2 linked regions of the Homo sapiens genome follow. The protein of the gene in region 1 purifies or fractionates together with the protein of each later gene. This does not show direct contact. Each region holds a gene or a part of one and is shown in the gene's direction. Other genes may lie near its edges.

The links. The genes of interacting proteins can lie anywhere in the genome.
Region 2: the proteins of MAN1A1 (region 1) and GPC4 purify together in Homo sapiens (affinity purification with mass spectrometry; one large-scale study listed by BioGRID and IntAct). This does not show direct contact.

Annotation. Positions count from the first base shown.
Region 1 is NC_000006.12:119,189,262-119,194,510, reverse strand, and holds part of MAN1A1 (mannosyl-oligosaccharide 1,2-alpha-mannosidase IA), read left to right. Parts: intron 1-618; coding exon 619-734; intron 735-4,627; coding exon 4,628-4,847; intron 4,848-5,249. UniProt on the Homo sapiens protein: Involved in the maturation of Asn-linked oligosaccharides. Progressively trim alpha-1,2-linked mannose residues from Man(9)GlcNAc(2) to produce Man(5)GlcNAc(2).
Region 2 is NC_000023.11:133,408,116-133,412,489, reverse strand, and holds part of GPC4 (glypican-4 precursor), read left to right. Parts: intron 1-4,374. UniProt on the Homo sapiens protein: Cell surface proteoglycan that bears heparan sulfate. May be involved in the development of kidney tubules and of the central nervous system.

The DNA of each region.
Region 1 (5,249 bases):
CTCTACAAAAAATTTAAAAATGAGCCTGGCGTGGTGATGCGTGCCTGTAGTCCCAGCCACTTGGGAGGCTGAAGCAGGAGGATCACTTGAGCTCGGGAGTTCGAGGTTATAGTGAGCTATCATCGTGCCTCTGCACTCCAGCCTGGGTGACAGAGTGAGTTTAGAAATAATAATAATGGCAAGAACCTGAGGAGCTTCTTGTTTTATTTATTACAAACCACCTTCTAAAAAAGATTTGCTAATACTCATAGCTTTGCCAGAATTTTATATTATTCAGAACTAAAGCAAATAAAAATGTATTTAAATATATACTGTGAACATTTTAGTTGGGTGTTTTTCACTAGAGAACCAGATTTTTAGAATTAGGGGTAATTACATATCTTTTATCTTCCATGTTTACAAAACTACTCTGGTAATTATTTAGAGTATGTTACATTAGTTAATAGCCCATCTGCTCATTTCAGAATATCTTTCTGAAAATAAGAGATTTGTTGGAATTTAAATGTAACAGTGACTTGCAGTTGACATAGGGTTGCATCCTAGTTGCTAATGTGATTTTGCTGCATTATCTGAATTAAAAGCTGAATCACTCTAAAATTCATTTCCCTCTCTTTCCAGATCATGTATCAGTTGGAGGACTTGGAGACAGCTTCTATGAGTATTTGCTGAAGGCCTGGTTAATGTCTGACAAGACAGATCTGGAAGCTAAGAAGATGTATTTTGATGCTGTTCAGGTAACCCAATATTTAAATCATCTTTGCCACTCAGCCCTAACTTATAATTTGTATATTAATCAAGTTTTAATGAATAAGTGGTATACTACATGAGTGAGTTACAAAGTATTTCCAATTAGGTAGAGTTCGATATCTGCTAATATCATCGTAATAATGGTAATCATATTTGATGTTTATTTCTAATAGGGCCGTTAAAGTTTTTGCATGGTTTAAACCTCAGTTAAGAGTCACATATCTGAAAAAGTAGTATTCTTTGATAAATATGAATTCTCTCCTTAGGACCACAATTTAAATTATGCAGGGGGAAATCCTGAATTTGTATTCTGACAATTGCCTAAGTTAAAATTGCCTGAGAAGACAGACAGTCCCAATGGCTACCTCCATGTGAAGTAAACTTGTCCCCAGAGATAAATGGACAGTACTCTAAGGAAATCCACACATAAAAATCTGAACAAACTCATATTTCAGGGAAGATCATTAATAGTATCAAAGATTCTTTACAGTGGAGAAGTAAGAGGCAACAGTTGAGTGTTGAATTGCCTACCATGTGCTAAGCTGTGTGTTAGGTAGCTCCTTTAAATGAAGCGGTGGAGTTGGGTTTTTTTCTCTCTCACAGTACTTGAGATTATTACCCAGTTTTACAGATAAAGTTGCTGTACCTCAGAGAGATTACATGTCGAACCAAAATTAAGATTAAAGTTTGTCTATATCAGCACCTGTTCCTTTTAACTCATCCACTGTGGATTTATTTGTAAGAATTTCCATTCTACACTTAAATCTTCATTTACTAATTTGCAAGCAGTAAGTTAGTAAGGTAAGTTAGAAACTACTTAAAGTCTCTAGGAGGAGGCTAGTATAAAAGTAAACTAAGAAACACCTCCAGTTAAGCCTCAATCAAAACCGAAAATAAAGTTAGAAAGTAAATAAAGTTAGAAAGAAAATTACTTTATCTAAAATATTTGTACTCTTCAGGAACAAAATTTTTTAGTGGAATCAGGTGCTTTTGCGATTAAGTATTTTATGTGGTAATACATATATTCTTTTAATATTATTATCAAGGCTTCTCAAGTAGTGTTGTAAAATAGTGGCTCAGTCCTCAGAAAAATTTTATTTTTCTTGACAGCTTAGAAATTTTTTAATAAAGTGTTAATTCATAGGAAAAAAATGGAAATTTGTAATCCCAAAGATGTAGCCATTATAAAATTGGTCTTTCTAACAAGAGGTCTGGGTTATTTTGACATAGGCGTACTTTTTTATTTAAATATAAATGCAGCTTGCTTTGTTCTGGTTAACTACACTGAGTATGACATTGGTTTCCTTTACAAGTCTTCACTACTTCACATGTAGGAACCAGAAGCGCCTTAGTGAGAACGTTGGCCTACATTTGGCACAGCCTTTATAAAGGCACATGATTAACATCAAAAGCAAACTAGGATATGATCCACATGGCCTCTTTTAGGTTTATTTTTCCTCATTGCTGTGAGGTTTCAGATTTTAACCTGGGGAGTTCTCCATATTTTATAGTTTCCATTCTGTCATCCTCTAATTACCATACTGGCAGACATTTTAATTATTCTAATCTTAAATTGGCCGTCTAAGATCTTGATGTTCAAAAAAAGACAGCTTTAAAATATTATTTGAAATATTTTCTTCCTAATTCCTAAAACCATACCCACACAACTTTTAGTATATTGTATTCAGACAAATCATTGACAGGAAAATCCATTAAGAACAAATGAAGTCAAAGTGTTTCCTGCTTCTCTTAGTAGTAAAAGCTAATTTTCAATCCACTGTATATTTTCAACTTAGAAAGCAAAGCTAGAACAACTAAATTTCTGTTTTGAGAAGTAGCATTGTCTTATACAGCAAAGTTTATTTCTGCTAAGTTGTACTTTAGAAGATTATTGTAACCAAGGGGAGGATGCTGTACACTATTGTTCTGGACAATTGATTACTGAAGATATGGCTACTCTGTTGTAGCTTCAAGTAGATTTTGGGAAGCATTTAATCCCAGAGTGATATGTTTTATTTGATTATTTTAATAACAAAATATTTTGAGCTTTCAACTGGCTATCATGGCCCTATCTGGAGACTACACTAGGAACTCACAATGGCAAATGATACCTGGGCAGAAGACATATCAGACACTTACGATTCTGAAGGCTTCATCAAACCAGTTTTTTAAATCAATTATACAAGGATTAAATCACAAAATATATAGTACTCTTTTTTCTAATCAATTATCTGTATCCTTGACACAGTTTTTTCAGATCTACTAAAGACTATCCTTCTTTGTATTTATTTATATTTCCCATGGCCACACAAAATTATTGCTTTGAAGGTCTTGGAATTTCATTGTAGTTTTTATTAGGAGGTAGCAACTTGGTCCGAATCATGCCAGAAATACTTTATTTAGGATCCATAACAGGGTAATAATGTTTCTCTAATTCATCCTCAAAAGCTACTACTCTTGCCATGTAGAAAGAATAATTTCTTAGGTGATGAACAAGTATCTGCTTGAAGGACTTTATTGCAATTTGTGTTATGAGAAGTATAAATAGCTAAGATGTTCAGTCGCATAAAATAAGAATGAAATATTAATGTAATAACTAAACCATCAATAACATTAGCTTAACCACGGTTAATGAGCACAGTAATATGTTCATTTATTTCTTACCATCTTGGTTTCATTCGTTTATTTCTAATAAAGGTAGGAAAGGTTTTAGCTTCCTGTGTGTTCATTTTCATTCATTCTTCTCTATCACAAGTTTTTTTCTGTGTCTATTATTCCCAAATGTGCTTCCTAACAAATCCCTCTCTCTTGATAGCAGTGTACAGGTATAGACACAGTCATGTCCTTTTTCCTTCCATGAAGTAATTGTGGGGCAGTGGGGAGAACATTTTCTGTTAGAGTAATTGGAGATTAGCAATGCCAAACACACTTTATTTTTGCTTTTTAAAATATAAGGCATATTTTACTTACCTGTCTAGTTTAAGAGAATATCAACAGACCTGGGATAGAAATAAAAGATGTTTTATAAATCATTTTTGTAAACATTATCATTTCTCCCAAATTTAAAGATTTTTCTGATTTTTAAAATATATACATTTATTCATTATATAATAGTGTGCTTTTTAATAGAAGTATTAGAGAGGAACTTGATTCAAGCGTCACCACTTTGGAGATGTAAATGATAATTATAAATGACTCTTATCAAGTGCCACTTGCATTAGTGACTGCTTTATAAACAAAATGTGGCAGAGTCGTATCAGGAGATCCTGTTGTTCCCATTTATGGATTAGGATGCTGAGATTTAGAGATATAGTAAGCAAATTGTTCACTCCCACAAATTAGAGATAGTGTCAGAGCTGGAATTTGAAGCCAAGTCTTCTGGCCCCAGAACACCTCCTCTTTGCCACTCTATTTTGTTATCCCTCCAAGCCTACAGAAGTGAAAGGAAGAGTTCTGCCACCATCCTGGATCTCATGCACAAATATGCTGTGTTCTTCATCCACCTTAGGGCCTGGGCTGTGTTATTTCACCACTTATGGAAATGAAAATGTACCAAACCAACTATTACTGCTGCACAGTGGCCTGTCTTTGGGAAGGAGAAAGTTTTTTGAATATGAGGAATACAATGTTTGGTCACAGAACCAAGCAAAACCAAATGTGCTGGCGCAGCAGTGTTAATTCTGACTAATCAAACAAATAAGGCATAAACTAGAGGAGGAATACAGAAAGCAATAGCATGTAATTTCAGGTTGAATGGATTTTTAACACCAAACTCTGATTGTCAGGTGTATTCTATTCTTTTTTTTTTAATGTTGGGCATATTTTTAGTATAAATTTGAGAAGAGATTACAAAATGTTAAAAAATAAGTGTTTTTCACAGGCTATCGAGACTCATTTGATCCGCAAGTCTAGCAGCGGACTAACTTATATCGCAGAGTGGAAAGGGGGCCTCCTGGAGCACAAGATGGGCCACCTGACCTGCTTCGCGGGGGGCATGTTCGCACTCGGGGCTGATGCAGCTCCCGAAGGCATGGCCCAACACTACCTTGAACTCGGGGCTGAAATTGCCCGTACTTGTCATGAATCATATAATCGAACATGTGAGTACATGTTATTCTTCATTTATGGTCTATTCCCACATGCTTTGATTTAATGCAGTTTTGTCATTGCTGCCCTCAAAAGACTATCCGCTCTGCCTATGAAGCTTGATGATCGTGATTAATGTCTCAAAGGAATGTATATTTTATTTTAAAAGGCAATGCTTTTCTTCCTAAAAATATCTACCTTTAGTTTACCAAGAAACAAAAATCCAGGCCATAAAGAGTTAAAGCCAGCCTAATTTACTGACTTCTGCTTTTGCCAATAACATTGGGCAAGGGTCTCTATCTCCCTGCAAAGAGAAACTTAGCATTTTATTAACCATTATTAATCTTCTCCACATCCCCCATGAAACAGATCATGAATCCCACTCCCTTCTTATAAAATAGGAATTTGAAACACAA
Region 2 (4,374 bases), on another chromosome or scaffold:
ATCCTTGGAAGACCACCAAGGACTTTAGCTCATGCAGTGCAATTTCGCACCACTTTCAACAATAACAAAAATGCATGACTGAATGGCTCAAAAATGTGGAGTGTTAGAGGCATTCATTTGAGTCTAGGACACTGTCACAACACAGACAGACCCAAGTAAATACCTTTAGACGGCCAGTATAGAAACAGGCGTAATCTTTACCATCACCCTGGCCTCTCCAGATGCATACATTAGCCTTGTCTTCTCTGAGCTACACTCAGATAATTTTGGTCATTTTTTAAGGGGGATAGTCAATATAGTGACTTGTATTCAGCCTAGGTCTGGATGGATTAATTGCCAGGCACTTTGCCTGGGATGGGGAATGTGCTTTTTTCAGTGCAAAACACCCAGGATCATTTTCCAGGTGAAGTATCACAAAGTCTGGGTACCTAGCTCATTGAGCCCCAGGCTCAGCCCAAGTTTAATGTTTTATTCCAGATGGCCTTGCACTTGCCTTCTAGAGGTTTGAACAGGCTTTAAGAATACTCCATGTTCTGGAGGAGTCTCAGTCTTTATAGATCATAGTTAGGATCATCTGATGTGCTCTCAAGGGTGTCAGGGAGTACATCATGCTGACAGGGCTTCCAACTGAGGTCCTGCATTGCCTGTCTGCTTGACCCCTGTACTTTTCAAATAATGCTGAGTCCAGGTGCCATGATCAAAAGGGATCTTTAACACAAAGATTATGTTTTTGTTCAGCTTTCAATGGCCATGTACTTTTGGAGCGCCCACTATGTGCAGTATCCTCTGCTCAGCATTGTGGAGACAGCAAGAAAGGCAGGAGGGGCTTCTGCCACCAGGACCTTTCCTATTAGTAAGGAGATAAGCCACGCACACACAAAATTAGAATACAACACAGTGGTGATAAGTGCCATACAAGCGATACAGATGACGAGAAGGGAGTGCCCAGGCATTTCAAAGAGAGAAGGGATTTAGGACTCTAATACTATAGAATATTAACTGGGTAAAGCTAGTTCACTAGTAAAAATGAAAATACTAATGAAGATAAGTTTAAAAATCTAACCATTTTCATTATGCCTCCCTCCATAAAGACAAAGGTAAAGGGTATGCAACAATGGGCATTTTATTACTCATCTATGTTGAAATTGTTTTTAAGAGTGAGGCAGTGGGTTAGAAGCATTCATGAACTTGCCAAAGGTCCTCTTCACAATGACATTGAATGATACTCAGAACTTTGTGCCCTAGTTGCAGTTTTGGAGTTTTTATTTCTTGTTCCCTTCTGTGTTCATGAGCAATGCACCTATGATCATGTGCTCACACACACATACATATGTACATGCACAAAGGATTCCAGGACTCCTATAAGCTGTTATGACTACGTGGAAAAAAAGTACGTGTGTATGTGTGTTGGAGAGGTAGCAATACTTTCTAATAGTGAGTTGATTATATATGACACACAGCATGTGTCTTTAAGATTTGTATTCCGCCTTCCCCACCGTAAGTAATGTGTTGGATTTTGCAATGAATCTGTGATCTCCTGTTTTGTTGGAATCATCAATTTGGCTCTGTGTTTCACTTGGGGAGGGTCGAATTGAGCCACAGGGCCTATCACTGTAGAAATTGTCCCAAGTAGTTTACAGGAGGTATCTTCTGGACATGTTCAAAAAAGAATTTAGTTAAAGTTCTGGCTTATGCAGCTCAGTCTCTGGTTAGAACATATAAATATAAAATGTCTGATTCAGCATAATTACTGTTTTCCTTTTTTATTTGATTCACGTTGGGTTGCATGCAATTTCAGGATTAACTGGAGACTAGACTGAGGAATGAAAAAGGAAGTTTTTTGTTATGTGTACAAGGGAAACAACATTGGCGTTAATCTGAGGCAGTTGGAAGTGAGTCTCTCTGGCTCCCCAATGACATTAACTGTTTTAGCACTGAGGTTTTTTTCTTATTTATGTTTTTAAAAATGTATTTTGGCCTCATGATAAGAGTTCGTAGCTATTGAATGCTTTCTCTGGGCCTGGCCCTATACCAAGGAACTTACATGATTGTCTCATTTAAAACCCACAACAACCATATGACATCAGAATTATCATCTCCATTTTATAGACAAGAAAACAAATTCAAAGGGATTATGAAATATGTTCACAATCTTATAGCTAATGAATAACAGAGGTGGGATTTGAACCCAGGTCTTATCTGTTCTAGAGTATAGTTCATGCTATGTTGTACAGATAGTAAGACAAGAAAGTACCTTCTCTATTCCCATAGAGGTTGTTGAGATATAAAGTATGGGAGGACCCTCAGCTAACTAGTAACAGACCATCATCAAAACGGCACAATTTTCGTGTTATAGTGGAGAGGATCCAGTCACATCTTTTGTAGACAAAATGTCAAACCCAGACATAGACAATCTAGTGTTAATGGTAGAAGGAATATAAATTGTATTTCCTGGACAATACAATTGAGCCAATGAGGGTTTCTGAGGGAGGGGAATGTCGTCAGTCAAGCTGTTTTAGGAAGATAACTAGTGGCTCTTTGGGTTAAGGGTTGGCGAGGCAAGAGATAAAGACAGGGAGGTCTGTCAGCAGACTCTTTTTAAATAGTTCTTAACTGGTCTACCTGCCTCTTGTCTGTCCCCCCCTCCTAAATCCCTGTTCTATCCTGAACATCGCCAGCTTAATTTCCTTACATCACTGCTTTGATTAGAGTTATTCCTGTGCTTTGAGCTTCAGTGGCTCCAAGCATCTCAAATGATACTTCTTTCATTGAGTCACTTCTGAACTCTCCAGGGTTATGTGCCCACTTCTTCCTAATTCCCTGTTGGAACCAGTCCATGGTCTTTGTACATAACTGCCTTGTATTATAGTTAACTGTGTGTGCAGGTACGTGTTTGTCTTCTCAACTGGAAGCAACTTGAGGGCAAAGATGACAACTCCTCGTCTTGTCTGTGGGTAGCAGTACCAAGTGTGGTAGGTCAGTGCAATATTTGTTAAACAAGTGGGAGAATAACATAGCCAATTCTATTGTGTTCTCTGTCAGACACTAGTGCTACAATGAGATTATACTGCCTTGATGATAGATTGTCATTCCATGGTCTGTTGATCTCCTAGGAATCTTTTGGATCTAAACACTTTTTTTTTTTTTTTTTTTTTTTTTTTTTTTTTTTAAGGCAGGGTCTCACTGTTGCCCAGACTGGAGTGCAGTGGCGTGATCTTGCCTCATCGCAACCTCTGCCTCCCAGGCTCAAGCAATTCTCCTGCCTCAGCCTCCAGAGTAGCTGGGATTATAGGCATGAGCCACTACCGCCTGGCTAATTTTTTTTTTTTTTTTCCAAGATGAAGTTTCGCTCTGTTGCCCAGGCTGGATTGCAGTCGCGTGATCTCGGCTCACTGCAATCTCCACCTCCTGGGTTCAAAGGATTCTCTTGCCTCAGCCTCCCGAGTAGCTGGGATTATAGGCGTGTGCCACCATACCCGGCTAATTTTTGTATTTTTAGTAGAGACGTGGTTTCACCATGTTGGCCAGGCTGGTCTAGAACTCCTGACCTCAAATGATCCAGCCTCCCAAAGTGCTGGAATTACAGGCATGAACCACCATTCCAGGCCTGTATCTAAACACTTTGAAGTGAAATAAATTTAAAGTAAATATGCATATGTTGGTATAGCTTGGAGAACGTTTTTATTCTTTTGGGGGAGTACTTGTCTTTACCACTTCATTAATAACTGAATGCTTATAGGATTTTTTTTTATTTTTTGAAACAGAGTTTCGCTCTTGTTGCCCAGGCTGGAGTGCAATGGCACGATCTCAGCTCTCCGCAACCTCCGCCTCTGGTTCAAGCCATTCTCCTGCCTCAGCCTCCAGAGTAGCTGGGATTACAGGCATGCACCACCATGCCCGGCTAATTTTGTATTTTTAGTAGAGATGGAGTTTTTCCATGTTAGTCAGGCTGGTCTTGAACTCCTGACCTCAGGTGATCCACCTCGGCCTCCCAAAGTGCTGGGATTACAGGCATGAGCTACTGCACTGGCCAGGAATTTTTCAGAAAGATTCAGAATTGTTTTTCTTAATGCCTTGAGATACACTTCTTTAAAGAATGAACAGTTGAGACTGTTGTGATTAGGCAATTTAGAGCAAATTTACCACATGCAACTGTTCAGTGTGCATCAGTTACCTTTTAACATAAAAAAACTCAAGTTTATTGTCTTTACCAAGAAGAACACAAGCTTTGAAGGGTATCAGAATATTTTATATAAATAAACAGACATACTAAAATACAAACAGGTAAAAACTAGCATTTTCAAATCTACTTGGTTAAACATCTGTTGCTTACTATAGAGAACATGAAAGTGCAGAAAATGCATGAAGCGATTC